Linked DNA regions of Homo sapiens: regions 1, 2 and 3 are each reported to be linked to region 4. Evidence: microRNA targets listed by miRTarBase, many of them from high-throughput screens and not tested one by one. Region 4 holds a microRNA gene; each other region holds the end of a gene's coding sequence.

Region 1 (5,133 bases), not on the chromosome of region 4:
AGTTTGAAGGTATCACCCCCGTCATACCTTTTTTTTTTTTTTGAGACAGAGTCGCTCTGTCACCCAGGCTGGAGTGCAGTGGCATGATCTCGGCTCATTGCAACCTCTGCCTCCCAGGTTCAAGCGATTCTTATGCCTCAGCCTCCCAAGTAGCTGAGATTACAGGCGTGCGCCACCACACGGGGCTAATTTTTGTATTTTTGGTAGAGACGGGGTTTCACCATGTTGGCCAGGCTGGTCTCAAACTCCTGACCTCAAGTGATCCACCTGCCTCGGCCTCCCAAAGTGCTGGGATTACAGGCGTGAGCCACCGTGCCTGGCTTTTTTTTTTTTTTTTTTTTTTTTTTGTGATGGAGTCTCACTCACTCTGTCACTCAGGCTGGAGTGCAGTGGCGCGATCTCGGCTCACTGCAACCTCCACCTCCCGGATTCAAGCAATTCTCCCACCTCAGCCTCCTGAGTAGCTGGGACTATGGGCATGTGCCACCACGCCTGGCTAATTTTTGTATTTTTAGTAGAGACAGTGTTTCACCATGTTGGCCAGGATGGTCTCGAACTCCTGGCTTCAAGTGATCTGCCTGCTTTGGCTTCCCAAATTGCTGGGATTACAGGCAACAGCCACTGTGCCCAGCCAATTCCTGTCATATCTGTAGGGTATTTTTTGTCTGTTTTATTTGCCCCTTGCTGGAATGTCCCAATCCATTTTCCATTTGACCCTGTACATTCTCCCTGGCCTACTCCAGGAATCAACAGGAGCTTAGCTTGGTACGATTGTGTAGCCCCTTCTGCACCATAGGCCAGGTCTGGCATTTAAGTACTTTGGAATCAGTAAATGGAGCAAGCATTCCCCTCTAGCCCCCACTGTGTGCACCCAGGCTATCTGATTGAACATCTGAACCAGTTTGTGGTTGCCATGCCAATTCTCTATGGATACCACAGCTTGCTTTCAAACCCCAACTCAGCTGGCTGGAGGCCTTGATTACTCTCCTAGTTCATCTGCCTCTGTTCCTTTGCCCCCCAGCTCCTGGCATCTCTGTGCATAGACACCTCTAAAAGATCATAGACATTCCTAAAAGGACCAGTTCCATGAGATACAGCATGCAAGAGCTTCCTGTTACTATGCCTTTTCTGCCCCCTGATCAGACCCCTTGAATATTGACCCTTAAATGAATCATGCTCAGGTTTGCAACCTCTCTTGGACTTTGCTGTTTGGACTGGTGTCCACTCCCTGGGGGAGCCAACACTATTATTGCCAAATTGTTTTAACTAGCTTCAGCCTACCTGAACCAGCCTCACTCCTTTCTGGCTCATTGAGAATTCTAGCATGTCGTAAGGCCATGGTCTCAGTGCTTATGATACTATCTTACCTTACTTTACCGTTAGTTCATAACCAGCTTTTGAACACATCTTGTCTGATTCTCAAAAAAGTTCTGTGAAAGAGGTAGAGAGGTTATTATTAACTCTCTATTGGAGATGAGGAAACAGACCTGGAGAGGGTAAATATCACGTGTCCAAGGGGACAGAGCTCATCAGTGGAGAACGAGGTCTCCTAATTCCAGTGTCCTCTTCATAACCCAGGTCACTCAGCACATTGAATTTCTACTGCGTGGCAGAGAGCATGCCTCATTTGCCTCTGTGTCTCTCTCTTATACTCTTGTGACAGAGCCTGATTTGAAAAGTCAGTCTTGGAGTCAGTCTAACTCTGCCTCCTACCTCCCTGAGACATTGTGTCCACCAGCTCCCCTCAAGGTTCCTTGGGCCTGTTCCTACCTGGTTCATGGGACCCAAGAATCCTGTGTCCCCCACTTGGGCTGTAACACCCAGCCTGATAGCTTTATTGTCCCACCACTGCCCCCTGGAGAGGAAAGCCTTGATATAGAGTTGGAGCCTCTTTCCAAGGGGGATTGGTAGAATCTTTGAAGAGAAACTACATTTCTGATGTGATGGTGGGGGTTAGCATTTCTCAATGTGGAGAGGGCATGAGGTTCCCTGCTTCCGACCAGGACCAGGATGGAATTTTAAAAAGAAAATCTTTCTCCTGATGGCATGTTGTATGGAGAGGGGATGTGTTTGTTGTATTGTTGTGGGTGAAAAGGATGGATTTCGATAAGAAAAGGAATCTCTCTCACCGTGAGGGGGTGGGGACCTCTCCTCTGATGGAACATAATGTCAGTTTCTAAGGGGAAAGGAAATTTCTTGTAGGAAAGGAATGTTCCTCTTTTAAGGGAGAGGAAGCTCTCTCTCAGGGATTACTAAGTGTGGTGGAAAGGAATACTTACTCTCTCCTTTCTTTCTTTCAATTTTTTAAAAATAGAGATGGGAGGCCGGGCGCGGTTGCTCACACCTGTAATCCCAGCTCTTTGGGAGGCCGAGGCGGGCAGATCACGAGGTCAGGAGATTGAGACCATCCTGGCTAACACAGTGAAACCCCGTCTCTACTAAAAATACAAAAAAAAATTAGCCGGGCGTGGTGGCGGGCGCCTATTGTCCCAGCTACTCGGGAGGCTGAGGCAGGAGAACAGCGTGAACCCGGGAGGTGGAGCTTGCAGTGAGCCGAGATCGCGCCACTGTACTCCAGCCTGGGTGACAGAGCGAGACTCCGTCTCAAAAAAAAAAAAAATAGAGATAGGATCTTGCTATGCTGTCCAGGCTAGTCTTGAACTCCTGGCCTCATGCAATCCTCTTGCTTCGGCCTCTAAAGGTCTCATTTCCTTCCCTCCCTCCCTCCCTCTCTCCCTCCCTCCCTTCCTTCCTTCCTTCCTTTTCTTTCTTTGTTTCTTTCTTGACAAGGTCTCACTCTCTGGCCCGGGCTGGAGTGCAGTGGCGTGATCACAGCTGACTGCAGCCTCAACCTCCTCCTGGGCTCGAGTTATCCTCCCACCTCAGCATCCGAAATAGCTTGGGACTACAGGCACATGCCACCACACCTGACTAATTGTTTTATTTTATTTTTTTTGTAGAGATGGGGTCTCTCTATGTTGCTCAGACTGGTCTCAAACTCATGGGCTCAAGTGATTCTCTCCCCTTGGCCTTCCAAAGTGCTGGGACTACAGGCATGAGCCACCACATCCAGTCTTCCTTTTTTTTTTTTCTAAAGGAGAAATCTCAAATAAAGAAAACTTCCATGCTTTCTCTCCAAAGAGGAAAAACTGTCTCAAGGGAGAACAATTCACATGAGATTGTGTCTGATTTTCTCTCCCTTTCTGATATCCAGCACTTCCTACATGGAGTCCACATACTCTGAGAGGGAGTGGCAAATAATTTCTCCTGTTCGGAGGTAAGGAAGCTGAGGAGGCAAACTTGCCATGGGGGAAACTTTTACTCTGAGAGGCTATTTGTGGGGGCAGTGACTCTAAGGAAACCCCTGTGAGGCTGGGGGAAGATAATGCACTGTTACTTGGGGAAATCTTTCAGGAATCCCAGAAGCACAGAGTGTTGAAGGGAGCTGAGAGATGTGCTGGGCCAGTTCTCGTTTGCTCATAAGGAAGCTGAGGTTCGGGGAAGGGAATGCCCCGCTACTAAGTGACAGCATCAGGACTCCAGCGCAGCTTTTCCAAGTCTCAGCCTGGGGCATTTCCTACCACAGCTGACAGGGGAGGGTGATGCTGGTGAGGAAACTGCTGCTATGAAATGTTTGACCTGTGTGGAGGCATCTCTGGAGTGGGAAGCATTGATTCCTGAGAGAAGGAAACTGGGAAAGAGGATGAAATTAGGGGCTCTGTCCAGCTGAAAGGGGTCAGGGTCATCGTGCAACCCAACAGGTGGACTGTGGGACATCAGCTTGTAGGGGATGCTGAGTTTGGAGGGAGTAAGGAGATAGGTCTCCAGATGTGCGGGGGAGGGGCTCTCACCGAGGTACCCAGGGAATTGTGCCACTCTCTGGGGCAGGAGAAATTTCCCAATCATTTCTTGTCTCTTCAGAGGGAGTTGTCATTTTTAATCTTTTCAAAATCAGAGGAAGGAGGTATGTAAACTAAATCCCAATAAAGCTGTTATTAGACAATGAAAAAGACAAGAACCACAACAACAAAAGCAACAGGGAGGAATGGCTCCGGGGCTGGCTCTGCGGCCCAGAAGTACAGTGATTTCCTCATTTGCAGCTTCAGCTACTCAAGTAACTACTTCTTTTGCCCTGTTCCTTTCTTAATCAGTAAAAAACCAAGGCCAGCTCATCCTGGGGGAGGTCAGAGGTTGCAGGAGAAAGAACTTGACAAACACACAAGCCACCTCTTCATTTACTGTAAAATCCTGTTTAATGTGTAACATTTCAGGCAGAGAGAGGCCTTGGGGACTAGAGGCAGAGGTGGCCTTGACCAACCCCTGCTCCAACTTATCTGCCTGCTTCTCTCTCCCTAACTCCCTCACCCCAGACACCTCCTCCTTTTCCTTGTGGCCAGCAAGCACTATTCCTCCTTTACTAGTGCTGGCCACCCTCCCTTCTCCACCCACATGTCCACAGCACCCCTGCCCTCTGCTCCTCTTACCCACATCCCTCCTCACTGATGTGACTCCAGAAACAGGGTATCTGACAGCACAGGGTTAAGATTAGTTTCATAATTGGAGACGCTGTCGGAGCATCCCATCTCTTGTACCCAGTGGTCCCAGAGAGAGGGAGAGGGAAGAGGGAAGGGTGCAGGCAACAAGGGCAGCCCACACTCCCAGTAACCTTGAGCACTGGCATAGGTGGCCTCTAGCTCCCCACCCCTCCAGCTCCTCAAAAGGAAGGCCCCGGGAGGAAGGGAAGTAGCCAGGGAAGGAAGGTTTTGATCGAGTAATCCCCAGCAGGCAGAGGCCTGTGCACCGGCAGGGGAGAAGGAGGGGCTCGCCCAGGGCAGGGTCGGGGGTGGGATGGGAGGTTGCCTGGTATGTGGCATCAGCAGGCCGAGCAGCGGTCGCTCTTTTCAGCCAGCCCAGCCCCGGTGCCAGGGCTGCGGCGCAGTATGTCTTTCAGGGAGCCATCCTGCTCACTCAGCAGCTTGTTGATCTCATTCTGCTTGTATTCAGGTGAGAGGCGGTGGCCGAAGCCCGAGCCCTTGCGGGAAGGTGGATTGGAGCGGCGCTGGGCTCGGCGGGCACAGGCCCGGATGATGAGGTACACCACCTCGGCCACATTGAGGATGATGCAGATGCCAG
Region 2 (5,145 bases), not on the chromosome of region 4:
TCCCGAGTAACTGGGATTACAGGCACGTGCCATCACACCCGGCTAATTTTTGTATTTTTAGTAAAGACGGGGTTTAACCATATTGGCCAGGCTGGTCACAAACTCCTGACCTCAAGTGATCTGCCTGCCTCGGCCTCCCAAAGTGCTGGGATTCCAGGCGTGAGCCACCACACCCAGCCAACTCTATACTTCTTTTTGAGTTATTTTAACCATGCACTATTACTTTTGTAACTTTCAAAACCATAAGAAGATGTGATGGAAAAGACTGGGAAAAATTATAGCTCAACTCAAAGTGTATATACACTATTTATCTTTTCCCGGACATAACTAATGTGTCTTGTTAAACATTTATCTACTGAAAAATCCATTTAGGAGTCAATATGATCATACATTTTCTTCAAGTCATTTATGTACTAAGCAGAATTACTTCTCACAAAAGAGTCTCAGCTTGTAATGTTAATTAACTTTATTCACATTTTTCCAAGTAAATACAATATTAACTATAAGCTAAAAACAATACATAGTTCTTAGAAAATACAACCCCGAATTATTGTGTGGCCTGGGCTTTGTGATTATGTGCCCAGCCTTTGTTCCTCCAGAATTTTAAAGTGAATGCAGTGCTCAAAACAAACTTACGATAGCACAGGGAAACCTTCCCTAAATAAAGTTTTGTTATTAGAAGAGAAATCCAAAAAGAGGCCTCTACTGCCTTCATTCAAGTGTCGAGAATTTCAAAATGGAAATAATATTAAAAGAGCAATCGATTTTTTTCCATCTCACACTAGTAGGCTTGAAGGAGGCAAATTTGGACCAAAAATCTAGACATAGCTCCTTGCATAGGGTTTGATATTAAGCACACACTTGCACTGAATAACTCCATATCCACCCTATAGTACAAAAATTCATTTCAAATGCAAACGTTGTGCAATGACCAGGTCATATTTTTAAGATCACTCTTTAAAATATCATTTTACTGATCACAAAATTATATAATAAGGATCTTATATGGGTTAGGTATTAAGTTTGATACCAAAGCAACTATAGCATCAAGCTACATAAATATTAGCACCATTTTTTATCTAGTCCAGTGAAATGTAAAACTATCCATCAAACTGTTTTTTACCAAAGCAGTCAACAAGAAAAATTGTTTTACTTCTGATATATGCTTTGCTCCTCCTCCTCTTTGCTAGTAATACTTTTGAACACTTTAAAGAAAGTACAGTCGGCCCTCTGTATCCGTGAGTTCTGCATCCATGGATTCAACCAAATACAAATTGAAAATATTTGGGGGCAAAAAGGATGGTTTCACTTGTGCTGAACATGTACAGGCTTTTTTTTCCTTGTCATTATTCCCTAAACAATATAGTATAACAACTATTTACAGAGCATTTACATTGTATTAGGTATTTTAAGTAATCTAGAGATGATTTAAAGCATACAGGAGGATGTGTCTAGGATATATGCAAATACTACACCATTTTATAGAAGGGGTTTGAGTATCCATGGAGTTTGGCATCCTAAGGGAGGCCTGGAACCAATGCCCCATGGATACTGAGAGGCGACTGTACCATAACATTCCATTTACAAAGTGTGTGCCCAGAACAGCATTATCAACCTGAAAAAGGATAGTGGAAGACCCTACAGATTTTTTTTAACTTACGAATTGTGCAGAATTATCTTCTGGAAGTTATGGCTTCCAATAACAGCCATCTTGCTTGCTCTCGTTCTTACAATTTAGTCAGCTGAGTTCAAGTGACCCAAGTATAAATACCCTTCAAGTTGCTAGCAATTGATCTTCGATGAAACACAATGACAAAGATATTACATATGAAATGGTATAAATATGTGCCTCCTACCTAATACGCAAGTAAGATCACCTATAGCCTATTATACATTTATTCATTTTTAAAATGAATCTTTTGAAGATCCATTTATTCACATTTTTCCAAGTAAATAGAATATTAACTATAACTACTAACTATAATCTTTTAAAGATTCATTTTAAAAGTGAATAAATGTGCTTAGAAATTTTAGGGGGGAGAACACACATAACATACATATAACCAGAGGTGCCAAGTATTTTAACATCTCCTAACTAAGGGCAGTTAAAAGACAAAGAATCGATTCCTGTTCACTTCTCCTCCCGCGGACTTAATGTCCAGCAGAGTGCTAGACAATATTGCTTCAATATTCTATTACTTTAATATTAAAAGCAGTAACAAAATCAAAAAGCATATTTATGACATTGTTTTAATTAAGTTAAAATCAAAATTTTAAAAAGAGTTTTATGTAGCATTTATTTTAAATATCATTGGGTTCTCTGTTTCAGACTTTTTCAACATGAAAGGTAATTTTTAAACTGTCTCACTGTCTTGCAGGTTGTCCCAAGAATTAGGAACATGATTACAACCACATTCATTTCTAGAATGAAAAGAAAGAATTAGGACCATCAGACTGTTAACAACTATCAAATTTTCACAGGTTCAAAAGGTAATTGACACTCTTTAAAAAAGAAAGAAAAGAAACCCTAACCAACTAAGGACTTGGATGTAAGATGAAGGCTTACAATTCATACTGATTTATTAACCATTCATGCACTTTAAAAGCACTTTAAAAATCCCGTTCATTTGTCTTCCACTTAAAAAGAGGAAAAAATTGGCCAATATTTGCCTTCTACATTATATCTCTGTCTGGAGTTTTAAGTAGTAAGTACATTAAATATAAGTTTGTTTTCTAAACAAGAGAAAAGTCTGGCGGTTCAAAGTCTAGAGGAAGTCGGGTTTCTAAGGCAGTCCGTCAGTGTGGGGCCTGCACCACTCTCTAAGGCCGTCTTTCCTAGATTGTCAGCTGCAACACAAGCCTGAGCTGGATGACTAACACCGAACATGCAAGAAGCGACTTTAAAGGAACAGTTTTCACAATCAGCTAGCTACACCATCACAAATTGCCACATTAAGGTGATCTTTAGGTACCTGTGTCGTTTAAAGACTTTAATAATAGTTAATACCAAAATTCACCAGTTACTAGCAAGGCTGTTTTGGACAACATGTAAAATTTCCTCTTTTGAAATATACATCTCAATGATTAGGAGAGATCTGTAAGGAAACAAATTCACCTCAAAACTATGCAAATATTTAAAAAGTTTTTTTAAGCTCACAATACTTCAGTATGTGTTTTCAAAGCTTAAACAGTTATCATGTGTGAAGAGTTTATGGGGAATGAAAGCAATATGTTCTAAAAATTGACTATGGTTTTCCAAAGACCCAGAGAAAAATACTAAGGTAATACTCAGCCTCACGTCCACTCACACATCTTCGGGTGCCAAGCTGGCATAGGCAGAGCACCATTATCTCTTATAAGGAACTTAGCACATATCCTTCTAGCAGATTCTTGTCTCCACAGGATGGAGAAGACATCATTCATTTGATGGAAACCAGTGTTTGTTAAAACCATTTTTCTACCCCCAAAGCAAACATACTAAAGAGAAGGAGCACTATTTACATAAATTTGTGCCTACCCACACACCACCATTCTCTCCCATTAAAGTGTAGATAAGATCTACTGGCTAGGAATCAAAGAGTAACGTATTTCAACCTAAAGTTTGAATACTGTACATCATCAAGACTTTGTTATTGTTAAGTGCTATAAAGAAAAAGAGAAAGTAGGGGTGGGCAGTCTATCTAACAGGCATCTTCACACTGGTCCCCATCCCAGTGGAACAAGCAATGCCAATGTACCAAGTGCAATTCCAGATTGTAAGTTTGAAATGTCATTGCCAGCCATTACAGAAGAGGCAAAAGTCCACAGTGGGTGTATGCCAAAAGGTCAAGTGTGACAAGGGACTGAATCCACAGTATGTATTCTTTAAAAAAAAAAAAAAAGGCAATAAAAAAAGTGAGTCTTTGACTACTCAAAAGAAACTTTACTACTACTGTACACACATATTGTGTTGTGTGCACTTCGTCTATTGGAATGTACTTGAGCTATTAAACTATTAAATAATAACTGCCTAGATGATCACTGAAAGAGAAAAAGAGACCCTCGCCCAGCCCAGATAATTCTTAAATATCACAATCTACATAAAGATGCTGCTGAACTGAAATACAAATAAGTTAAAAATTTTCAGGAACTAGCAAAGTTCTACTTTCATTATACATGGAATCAGTAGTAGTGCTGACACTCATTTTTGACTTGATATTCTTTCACAAACAAAACGGCATATAAGGAAAACGAGTCTTATGCTGTAGGATGGAATGATCTTATAGCTATGGAATCTGGAAAGTTATTTAGAACAAGATGATAATAGGCTCTACCTAAGCTTATGAAAAGAATACTGAACTGTAAGCATCTGTTGCCATTTAAAGGCATTTGGTGTCAGTATCTTAAAAGATTAAGATGCTTTAAAACAAAAACCTTATAAGAATATCAAAGATTTAGGGAATTATCTTCATAAATAACCAAATGTCTATGGCTTCAACTGTCTGCCCTACTGCCGAGGTAGGTGACCAATATTCATCAAAATAAAACAATCTTTTACAAATTCCCTAAAAAAAACCTTGCATAATCAGTTGGTTTCTTAAACCTGTGTCCGTTTCTTTTGATGGTTTTTGTTTTGTTTTTCCTTTCAGTCATTTACACTTTTTAAAAGAGGCTGTCCACGCAAGTGTTTCTTTAAGCTCTTGCCGAATAGCACCTCATGTATTCTGTCATCCACGGGTTCTCTGAGGAGGAAGCCTTCATCTTTCTGTTCTTCTCCACATCCACAGAGTGAGCTCGCTGCCTTTGAGCAACCAGTTTCCTTTTTTCCACCTGTCTTCTGTTCTTGGCTCGTAATGCTGATTCATGAATCTAAAGAGAGTTCAAAATAAAGGATAGTAACTTAAGGGGCTATTATACTAATGTTCAACAGAGGTTGCAATGAAGCTGGCTACTGCCAGGTCAACTGCAGCAGGGCAGAGTCAAGCCCTGCCTCTCTATATAGTTCTTCTTTACATAAAACCTTCCACAGAAGAGCCATTCTCACTTGATGCTGTTCTCACTTGATTCATATCAGGGATAATGAAACTAAGCAACAGCAAATTAAATGTTAGACAGAAATGGTAAGCAACTAATTTGCATGTGCCTCTAGAGTTGGCTCTGGAAAAC
Region 3 (5,145 bases), not on the chromosome of region 4:
CAGGCCTTGGGGGGCCTTGCACAGCGGCGGAAACCCACCAGTTTTGGCCCTAGCAGGCTCTTTTTGCTGGCTGAAGTCAGCAGAACCCCAGCCTCCAATGCCAGGCTCTTAAGTCTGTGAGGCATCGGTCATCTGTAAGCCAGGGAAGAGCTGTGCCCAGTGCCTGATGCTTTTTGCCCTCACTGTGTCTCTGGTTCCCTCGCAGGCCGGCCAAGACTTCACCACGGCGTGCCCTCAGTGTGGAGGACGTGGGTGCTCCCAGCCTGGCTCGCACCGTGGGCCGCCTGGTGGAGGTGTTCCCAGACGGCACCAGCCAGCTGCAGCTGCAGCGCTCCCCAGGGGGCACTTTCGGCTTCTGCGTGGCCTCTGGGAATGGGCGCCCAGACTCAGGTATGCCCTCTCCTCTTCCTCAGCCCCATGGCTGGGGCGGCCTTAGCAAACAAGGCAGGGCCTTCTGGCTGTGGTCAGAGGCTTTTCTGGTCTTTGGCTGAGCCGTGCAGCTCTGGGAATTCAGAAAGCCTCTGACTACAGGACTAGGCTTCTCCCCTCAGGGGCTCTTTCTGAATTGTCCAGGGCTCTCTAGGAGTCTGCACCTGCAGAGCCTTTGCCCTAGGCAACTGCAGCTGAGAGTGCGTTGGTGGGGAGTGTGCGGGAGGGGGTAGAGTTGGCAGGTTTGACTCCACTGTCCCCCTGCTGTCTGATGACATCTTGAAATTAGAAGCTTAGGCCGGGCGCAGTGGCTCATGCCTGTAATCCCAGAACTTTGGGAGGCCGAGGCGCCTGGATCACCTGAGGTCAGGAGTTCGAGACCAGTCTGGCCCACATGGTGAAACCCATGTCTACTAAAAATACAAAATTAGCTGGGCGTGGTGGCGCATGCCTATAATCCCAGCTACTTGGGAGGCTGAGGCAGGAGAATTGCTTGAACCCGGGAGGTAGAGGTTGCAGTGAGCCGAGATTGCGCCATTGCACTCCAGCCTGGGCAACAAGAGCAAAACTTCATCTCAAAGGAAAAAAAAAAAGAAATAAATAAATTAGAATTTTGAAGGCCATCTTTGCAGAGGAGAGCCAGAGGGAAACTGTCTGTGCCTGCTGGTTCTCAGCAGTCCCTTTGATGTGGCTGCGTTGAAACGGTTCCTTTCCTCCGGCTGTGGAGTATGTCTGGGCACGTGGAGCATGCCTGTCTGTCTCTGCATCCCGTCCCTCCCTCAGGCCTGTGCCCGATGATTATGTTCAGATGAATCCTGGCTGCAGGCCTCTGACTGGGGTGTGCTCTGGGTCTCAATTCAACCCAGGCAATGGCAGGGAGAAGTCCTGGACATCATTCTGCACTCTGACCAGTTCTCAGTTCCACCCCATCCATGAGTCTTTCAGGGCAACGTGACTTGCAAAAGCCCACGCCCAAGGTCTGTGGTCCAGAATGCATCTCAAGGGCCCATAAAAGACATTCCCCAGAGGATCAGGGAAGGAAGACACGTATGTGAGGGTGGGGAAGGAGGGGAGGGGAAGGAAGGAGAGAGAAAGGGAGAGACAGATACAGAAAGACGAACACAGAAGCCTGCTGCGGCCGGGCTCTGCCGATGGGGGGTTGAGTCCTGTGCTTTGATCTCCTAGCTCAATGCTGTTTAGCCTGGAAAAAAGTCTGCCTGCTACCACATTTGCAGACCACAGCATGAGTTCTCATGTCTGTTCCATCATTGTTTCAGCAAATATATACTAAGCACCTACTATGTGTTATAGATACGGGGGATACAGCAGTAAATGGAACAGACCAAATCCCTATCCTCATGAATATACTACCCAGTGAGCAGTTAGATTGTATCTATAAAATGTGTACTCTTGTTATGTATAATGTGCTACGTATGTCAGATGGTGAAAAGAAAGTTCTGAGAAACAGACAGATAAAGCAGGTGTGGCAGGTGCTGGTATAGACAGGAGTGTGGGGAGGCTTTTCTGAGAAGATGACACTTGAGCAGGGCCGTGGATGGGGCGAGGAAGGGGCCCCATGGGTGTCTGGGGAAGAGCATTCCGGCAGACTGAACAGCAAGTGCGGAGCCCTGGTGGAGGGGCGAGCCTGGCCTGTGAGAACTGTGAGGGTCAGGCTGGACACTGCAGAGCAGGCAACGGGTTGGGAGGAGCAGAGTTTGGAAAGATGGGGTTGTGCCACTGTAAGGGGCTTTGGCTTTCATGCCGAATGAGATGGGAGCCACTAGAGGGCTCGGAGCGAGCACTGAGACTCTCTAATGTCTATGAGAATAGACCCCAGTGGGACACGGGTGGAGCCAGGGAGCCCTGTGTTGAAGCTATTTCAGCAGTCCAGGACAGAGACAGTGGTGCCTGGACTGGGAACGGCTGTGGAGATGGGGAGAGGGGAGAGGGGACAGGGGTTGGATTCTGGTTGATTTGACTATTTGCTGATGAGCTGGACATGTAAGAGGAAGAGAGGACAGGTCTCTGCCTACTCTGGACCTCAGGAGGATAAAAAGTCCTTCCTCACAGGCCTTCCCGTAGCCTCCTCTCCCGTTAGGGGAGCAGGACAGGCCCCCCGGACAGGTGGTGTGAAGGCAGAGGCAGACAACGCAGCATGTTTGTGCTCCGGCACCTCTGCTGGCTATGTGATCTAGAGCAGGCGACATCCCCACTGAGCCTCACTCAGTTCCCTAATCTGTGAAATGAGGATGACAAAACCTACCTAGAAGAGTCATAAGGAGCATTTGGTAAGGCACACAGGAAAGGGCCTAGCATTTTTCTTCCCTCCCCTTCAGAAAGAGAAAGTCTGGGGAAGAGAACCCCAGACAGGGACCAGCGTGATCCGCATTCACCTGTCGATGTGAGTGCACACACAACAGGTCATTGTACTCTGCCGCCCACCCTCCCCCAGAGTCCCTTTTTGCTCCCTTGTAGGCAGTGGGAGCCCCTCCCTGTCACCCGTCAGGGAGCTCTGATGGGCAGGGGTCTCTAGTGACCCAGGGCCCCCGGCACCCTCGCCTGAGTTGGTGCCAGCTCCCCGTTGTGCCCAGGCACTCCCTGGTCCTGCTGCCATCATGGGCGCTGGATGGCACACAGGGGTCCCCACGCACATGAAGCCTGGCGAGTGCTGGGGCCTCCGTGTCCCAGGCCATCCTCCAACAGCAGAGGGTCGCTTCTTCCAGGCTCCAAGGGGCTGTGAGGAGGGCTGGCTTGCGCCCCGCACTGAACCGGCAGGATGCTGGTATTAACTTGCTGGCTTTCACATCCGACTCTATATGAGCCTGTGAGAACAGCAGGCTTTGCCTTCTGCTTCTAATTGGATACAACATAGAGATCACACATCCTCAACAAAGGCCATTTCCAGCAGACAATAAATGCCTATGACAGCAGGCTGTCATATTTGTGTCACGAATTTCAGTTGCGAAACCTACCCGAGTCTCCCCAAAATGGCAGGCGTGACGTCAGTGTCTGGCCTAGCTCTGGCAGCATTCTTTCAGGGTTTATCATTAGTCCCCACCTGCAACTCCCACAGCACATCAGACACTTCTCTGGGTTTGCCCCAGGGGCCCCTTCTTACCTGCCCCCTCCCCGTGCCACCAACCCGTAGACAGGGAGGGCAAGCAGTGAAAGGTCCATCTAGAGGAGGTAAAAGACAGGGCTGAGGGAAAACGCCTTGTACAGTCAGGATGGCAGATGTACTCTGTCAGGGAAGACAGCCCCACAGAAAAGGCTCGGCTTGGCCAAGAAGCAACAAAAGGGATTCTACACCTCAGACCAGGGAGGGGGAATGTGTACAAAGATTGGATTTACTAAATTCAGAGCCACAGACTTTCAGGTACTTCGGTGAAGATCAGTGCTCTTTCAAACCCACACTTCAGAGGCAGGCTTTAAAACGCCTGACTTCTGTCAGGGCCACAGGCTGGGCTGCCCAAAGCTCCTACGGGGCTGGGGGATCCGAGAGAGGACTTCCCACTAGTCCAAGATGTGGTGACTAGTTTCAAGCCAGAGATTGAGGAGCAGACCTGATGCCCTTTCGGGCCCCTGCTAAGAACCTGATTCGAGGAAAAGGAAGTGAAGACAGTAACGCGTGGGCAGTGGCCTCATGTCTGAAATGCAGAGTGAGCCGAGCTGGGCTGCGAACAGCGAGGGTGCCAAAGGCTGCGCTGAGCAGCCTGAATTCCGCCAGTGCTGATGCCCACACCAGGGGTGTGCCCCGCAGTCCCTCCAGCAAACTCAGCTTGTGTCTCAGCCCCTGTGTCCACCCAGCATGAAGCATGGGCATCAGGGGGTCCAGCCTGCCCTGGGAGAGCCAGCACCTCACTTACTCTCCCAGGTGGGAGCAGCTGGAGGGGAATTTGAAAGGTTTCCAGCCGCGGTTGAGGCCGGCGGGCGGGGGTTGGGGGCAGGGGGCCTCCTCAGCTGGACACTTCCCAGCCCAGCCAGCCCAAGCCCCACAGGGCCTGCCCCACTGACGGGGGGCTCCCTGAGAGCCGGAGCCTGGCAAAGAAGCAGAGAAGCTAGTTCCCGCAGGCTGGCTCTTGGCACCTTCTAGACCCAGGCAGGGCCTCTTTGGGGTGGGGAGGAGGGGGCATGTGCAGAAGAGGAGAGGGAGCCACCGCAGCTTTGAAATATGTGGCTAGAATTTTTATTTTTCCTGGGGTTTTTTGCTCAGATGCTTCCCCATCCCAATTGAGGAGCCATATCTGAGTAAGACTGAGGCCAGTGTCAGTCTTTGGCAATAGAGTGCAGCAAACCAGGCTTGGATGTGGCTCAGCCACTTTTGCTCTTCCGATGATACCTTCCCACCACCCCGGCCTTTACGCTGGGCCTGGGTGACCTGAGGCAGCAACTGGATCATAGTGCCAGGCACTGAGTAGGTATGGTTCCTAATTTTTAAAAACTATTTTCCTCCCAATTCTACAAGAAAAGCTCATCTCAGAAAAAGATTAGCTCACTCACTGTCAGGTATAAATAAATGACAACAGTTTAACGCGTTATTTGCACTAGGAGCATTTCCACTTTAAAAGCAGAGACAGTGGAATGGAGTTAGACCATGGAGGAGGCGCACTGTATCTATGTCTAAAGCCAGTTGTGGTTGTGAGATGGAATAATGAGGGGTGTGTGTATGTGTGCATGCGCACAGAGAAGTGCCTGGTATGAGCACCTCCTCCCTGT
Region 4 (5,145 bases):
TGCCCACCCTGTGGTTCTGCAGCCCCAGTGCCAAGTACTTCTTCAAGATGGCCTTCTACAATGGCTGGATCCTCTTCCTGGCTGTGCTCGCCATCCCTGTGTGTGCCGTGCGAGGACGCAACGTCGAGAACATGAAGTGAGGGGCAAGGGGTCTTGGGCAATGAGGGAACCTAAGGGTACAAAGTGAGTAGTGGATTGGGGGAAGGGGGCATGGTGTGTGTAGAAAAGACTGAGAGAGACCAGAGACAGGGAATGGGGAGAGGACTGCAAAGGTGGTCAGAAAGACAGTAAGGTGGGGGGAGCTGAGGCATGCAGATGGACATCAATGGATCCCACTGGGACCCCTTGCCATGACCCCACAGGATCTTGCGTCTAATGCTGCTCCACATCAAATACCTGTACGGGATCCGAGTGGAGGTGCGAGGGGCTCACCACTTCCCTCCCTCGCAGCCCTATGTTGTTGTCTCCAACCACCAGAGCTCTCTCGATCTGCTTGGTGAGACCCCACCACAGGGCACACCTCCCCCAGCCATGCCTCCCCTCCTGAAACCTTCCCTAGAATATCTTCTCCTAGAGATCCTCAATTCCCCTTCCTCTGGGACATTGCCCCCTTGCCTCCCACTCAGGCCTTCATTCCCTGGGTAGAACTGCCCTCATAAGCAGGTTACATATACTTTTGGTCACCCTTTCCTTCACTTGGGGCCCCCCTCCCTGCCTAGTCTCCTCCTTCACCTCCAGTCCCTACCAGAGGGTGATGAGCTGGGTGAGGTGGGTTGCCTTCTGTGACACTCTGCCTCCACCCCGATCCTCACCCACTCCCACCCTGCCCAAGGGATGATGGAGGTACTGCCAGGCCGCTGTGTGCCCATTGCCAAGCGCGAGCTACTGTGGGCTGGCTCTGCCGGGCTGGCCTGCTGGCTGGCAGGAGTCATCTTCATCGACCGGAAGCGCACGGGGGATGCCATCAGTGTCATGTCTGAGGTCGCCCAGACCCTGCTCACCCAGGACGTGAGTCATCCTGGGGAAATGGGGGATTGGAGGGATACAGAGTAGAACAGTTGTAAATAAACTGATATGCAGGGCCAGTGGGCCTCAAAGGTCCCATTATAACATCACACCTATTCTGACTCCTCCATATGTATTTGTCTTCTTTGACCCTCTTTCTCCCCCAGGTGAGGGTCTGGGTGTTTCCTGAGGGAACGAGAAACCACAATGGCTCCATGCTGCCCTTCAAACGTGGCGCCTTCCATCTTGCAGTGCAGGCCCAGGTGACTACTGCTCTTCGTTCTGCTACTCAGCTGCCAACCCCCACCATTCCCTCATCTCTGGGCAGGGGCTTATTGTAGGAGTCTCTGAAGAGAGCTGTGGACTGACCTGCTTTAACCCTTCCCCAGGTTCCCATTGTCCCCATAGTCATGTCCTCCTACCAAGACTTCTACTGCAAGAAGGAGCGTCGCTTCACCTCGGGTGAGGGCTTTGAGCAGTTCTGGGGTAGGGTGTGTCCGGAGAGGCTGGGAGGACATCCCTGTGAGGCAGGGGGATCATTCAGTGTCAGAGCCATGAGATGTCTACACAGTCATCTAGTCTAACCCCACATCAGCCAATAAGTCTTTACTAAGCACCCACCATACCCTGCCAGATGGGTAGCACTTGGTCCCACCAAGAGAGGCTGTTACTAATCTTAACAGGAAAGATAAGGCCTGTGTGCACAAAGCTGTAATGAATAACACTCATTCAGCAGTAAATGCCAAACCCAGAGGAGGGGGGCTGGAGGGGTGCTGAGGAGATGTCTGAACTGGGGATTGGAGAAGGCTTTGTATAGGAGAAGGGCCTCAGAAGTGGCAGCTGGCAAGCCCAGGGATGGTTGTCCAGGGTTGGGGGAAGAGAACTGAAAGGTTGAGGAAGAGTATCACTCGGAAGCTGGGCCCCACCTGTGGGCAAAGACCTGGGTGGACAGGCCATGATGGTGCTCCCCTTGCCCCAGGACAATGTCAGGTGCGGGTGCTGCCCCCAGTGCCCACGGAAGGGCTGACACCAGATGACGTCCCAGCTCTGGCTGACAGAGTCCGGCACTCCATGCTCACTGTTTTCCGGGAAATCTCCACTGATGGCCGGGGTGGTGGTGACTATCTGAAGAAGCCTGGGGGCGGTGGGTGAACCCTGGCTCTGAGCTCTCCTCCCATCTGTCCCCATCTTCCTCCCCACACCTACCCACCCAGTGGGCCCTGAAGCAGGGCCAAACCCTCTTCCTTGTCTCCCCTCTCCCCACTTATTCTCCTCTTTGGAATCTTCAACTTCTGAAGTGAATGTGGATACAGCGCCACTCCTGCCCCCTCTTGGCCCCATCCATGGACTCTTGCCTCGGTGCAGTCTCCACTCTTGACCCCCACCTCCTACTGTCTTGTCTGTGGGACAGTTGCCTCCCCCTCATCTCCAGTGACTCAGCCTACACAAGGGAGGGGAACATTCCATCCCCAGTGGAGTCTCTTCCTATGTGGTCTTCTCTACCCCTCTACCCCACATTGGCCAGTGGACTCATCCATTCTTTGGAACAAATCCCCCCCACTCCAAAGTCCATGGATTCAATGGACTCATCCATTTGTGAGGAGGACTTCTCGCCCTCTGGCTGGAAGCTGATACCTGAAGCACTCCCAGGCTCATCATGGGAGCTTTCCTCAGCACCTTCACCTTCCCTCCCAGTGTAGCCTCCTGTCAGTGGGGGCTGGACCCTTCTAATTCAGAGGTCTCATGCCTGCCCTTGCCCAGATGCCCAGGGTCGTGCACTCTCTGGGATACCAGTTCAGTCTCCACATTTCTGGTTTTCTGTCCCCATAGTACAGTTCTTCAGTGGACATGACCCCACCCAGCCCCCTGCAGCCCTGCTGCACCATCTCACCAGACACAAGGGGAAGAAGCAGACATCAGGTGCTGCACTCACTTCTGCCCCCTGGGGAGTTGGGGAAAGGAACGAACCCTGGCTGGAGGGGATAGGAGGGCTTTTAATTTATTTCTTTTTCTGTTGAGGCTTCCCCCTCTCTGAGCCAGTTTTCATTTCTTCCTGGTGGCATTAGCCACTCCCTGCCTCTCACTCCAGACCTGTTCCCACAACTGGGGAGGTAGGCTGGGAGCAAAAGGAGAGGGTGGGACCCAGTTTTGCGTGGTTGGTTTTTATTAATTATCTGGATAACAGCAAAAAAACTGAAAATAAAGAGAGAGAGAGATCTGGGTGTTGGTGGTTGCATTTGTTAAGGAATTGAAGAAGCAGTTCTTGCCCAGGCAACCTGCCCCCAGCCAGAAGACTCAGGGGCAGGCCAAGAACACAGGCCTCCCCCTTTCTTCAGCTCTCTGAAGTTTCCATTGTTCATTGCTCTTTGGTGGCTGATAGCCTTATCTGCAGCTCACAGTCGGCCAATCCCAGAGGATTAGTGGGTCCGGTTTCTGTATAAATTAGGGGGCAGGGGTGCTGTAGAGGCTTCTTATCGATGATTGACGCCGAGGCCCAGGCTGTTGTCCTCACAGGAGCCTGGTTAATGACATGGCAGACACAGTGGCTGTGGTCAGCCTGGAGTGGACTACACTGCCACTCTCACCAAACAATAAGTGAAACTGTTGGGCTGGGGACAGGATTTCAGAAGAGAACGATGGTAAAGTGGAGAGGCATGAGGATAGTGAATGTTGGAGAGGGGCTTGGAGGAAAGAGGGAATGCCTGAATGGAGAGGGGTCTTGGGGAAAGTTGGGGAATAGAAGTCAAGGCGGGAGGAGTGTGAGGACTCACAGGCACCTAGCCTCTCCTCCAGCAGCAGCACCTGGTCGCTGAGAGATTCGATCCGGTCACCCCGGCCCCACAGCTCAGCCACCTGTTCTGGCTGCAGCTCTTCAGGCGGCACGGGCAGCACCGCTCTGACCCAGGCCCCAGCCTGACCGGCCCACTAGAAAGGAAGAGATGCCTCAGGGTATTGACAGTGACGTCTGGCCTCGCCCCACCCAGCAGGCTTGGCTCACCTGCTCCAGCCGCTCCAGGCGCCCTCGCAGCTCGTGAATCTCCTGCTTCAGAGCGCGCTCATCTTTTTCCGCCTCCCGAACTAGGGACAAAGGAGACCAAGAGTGTGACCACTACCCGAGCCCGGACGCCCGTCCCGAGTCCCTCGGGTGGCCCGTACTCCTGCCCACTCACCGGCCACGCTGAGTATGCTGGCACTGGTTGGGGGCTCTGGGGACCCCTCCATGCAGGTGCGCCCGTCCACGCCTAGCACTAGGTCATGGGGGCAGCCGCAGGTGAAGCTGCCTGCCGTATTAAAACAATGGTGCGAGCAGAGGGTGATGCTGGTCCTACATTCATCCACGTCTAGTTACCGAAAAAAGGAAGGGGCTGAGAGAGGGGGCGGGGGCAAGCACCTGGGTAGGTGGGGAGGACAAGCTGACTCACCCACATGACAGTGCTTCCCTCCCCAGCCGGGGGCGCACTCGCACTGGTCAGGCCTAACGCAGACGCCTCCGTTCAGGCAAGGCTTGGCGCAGATGGCTGAGGACAGAGGAAGTGGGGTTCAGACTCAAACCGACGACCCAGCTCCCCAGCTCCGTGGGGCGCGCCTCCCGCAAGGCCCGGAAGACCCAGCCTCACCTTCACAGGTGAGCGCCCCCGGGTGCCGCTTCTTCCAGCCCTGGCAGCACACTGCATGGGTCTGCTGAACCTCCCGCCTCACCTCCCGCCACATAACGCGGTACATGGTCCTGGAACACAGCGCCCGGCTCAGGACCCTGAGTACGGGTCCTAGTTGGGGTTCTTGGGGTCCCATCTCCCCATCCCTCACCTGTAAGTGCTGCAGATGCGCCTCCCAGCGCACAAGGTCAGGTAGGGCTTGTACACTGGTTGGCTGTAGGACTCGTTGTAGTGGAGCGGGACCACCAGTGTCTGCTTGGAGCAGACTCCCTGACTGCGTCCATGCCAGAGGATGAGGTGGGAGAGATTGAGTAGGCCAGGCCCTGGGGAGCCAGGAGTCCCACTTCCCTCAAGAGGCTACTGAGGCCCCCCGCTCTCCCTCCAGATGACAGCCTCTCACCCCCATTCTAAACTTACAGTTATGTTTTGCCTCCTGTGAAGCCCCACCCCCAGCAGAAGGCTCCTGAGAAGAGCTCACCCCGGG

The links. Region 4 holds the annotated microRNA hsa-miR-6721-5p (UGGGCAGGGGCUUAUUGUAGGAG, at 1,327-1,349, shown strand). A microRNA usually pairs through its seed, bases 2 to 8, with sites in the 3' UTR of a target mRNA and lowers its output. Matches are read on the target gene's strand: a 7mer-m8 pairs with bases 2 to 8, a 7mer-A1 pairs with bases 2 to 7 and ends in A, and an 8mer does both.
Region 1: miRTarBase lists GJB1 as a target of hsa-miR-6721-5p. Seed matches in the 3' UTR shown: 7mer-m8 at 4,830-4,836.
Region 2: the mRNA of CCSAP is a reported target of hsa-miR-6721-5p. Seed matches in the 3' UTR shown: 7mer-A1 at 3,669-3,675.
Region 3: miRTarBase lists KIAA1614 as a target of hsa-miR-6721-5p. Seed matches in the 3' UTR shown: 7mer-m8 at 3,547-3,553, 7mer-A1 at 3,895-3,901, 7mer-m8 at 4,265-4,271 and 7mer-m8 at 4,430-4,436.

Annotation. Positions count from the first base shown.
Region 1 is chrX:71,224,300-71,229,432 of GRCh38, reverse strand. GJB1 (gap junction protein beta 1) reads right to left here. Exons shown (of 2, transcript NM_000166.6): 2 at 3,917-5,133. The coding sequence ends at 4,874. Among named protein-coding and RNA genes, the nearest start is that of GJB1, 3.6 kb to the right of the region's middle.
Region 2 is chr1:229,320,564-229,325,708 of GRCh38, forward strand. CCSAP (centriole, cilia and spindle associated protein) reads right to left here. Exons shown (of 4, transcript NM_145257.5): 4 at 452-4,848. The coding sequence ends at 4,672. Among named protein-coding and RNA genes, the nearest start is that of CCSAP, 20 kb to the right of the region's middle.
Region 3 is chr1:180,945,098-180,950,242 of GRCh38, forward strand. KIAA1614 reads left to right here. Exons shown (of 9, transcript NM_020950.2): 9 at 206-5,145. The coding sequence ends at 491. It overlaps KIAA1614-AS1 (KIAA1614 antisense RNA 1), which reads right to left. Exons shown (of 2, transcript NR_145481.1): 2 at 4,593-5,145. Among named protein-coding and RNA genes, the nearest start is that of KIAA1614-AS1, 7.2 kb to the right of the region's middle. RefSeq lists an enhancer at 4,328-4,878.
Region 4 is chr6:32,166,288-32,171,432 of GRCh38, reverse strand. It overlaps MIR6721 (microRNA 6721), which reads left to right and starts at 1,317; the gene lies at 1,317-1,403. EGFL8 (EGF like domain multiple 8) reads right to left here. Exons shown (of 9, transcript NM_030652.4): 3 at 4,813-4,935; 4 at 4,623-4,732; 5 at 4,428-4,523; 6 at 4,176-4,346; 7 at 4,004-4,083; 8 at 3,777-3,930; 9 at 3,152-3,523. The coding sequence ends at 3,477. AGPAT1 (1-acylglycerol-3-phosphate O-acyltransferase 1) reads left to right here. Exons shown (of 7, transcript NM_006411.4): 2 at 1-136; 3 at 363-496; 4 at 833-1,008; 5 at 1,173-1,268; 6 at 1,395-1,467; 7 at 1,985-3,221. The coding sequence ends at 2,157. PPT2-EGFL8 (PPT2-EGFL8 readthrough (NMD candidate)) reads right to left here. Exons shown (of 16, transcript NR_037861.1): 10 at 4,813-5,145; 11 at 4,623-4,732; 12 at 4,428-4,523; 13 at 4,176-4,346; 14 at 4,004-4,083; 15 at 3,777-3,930; 16 at 3,148-3,523. RefSeq lists enhancers at 935-2,134, 3,643-4,395.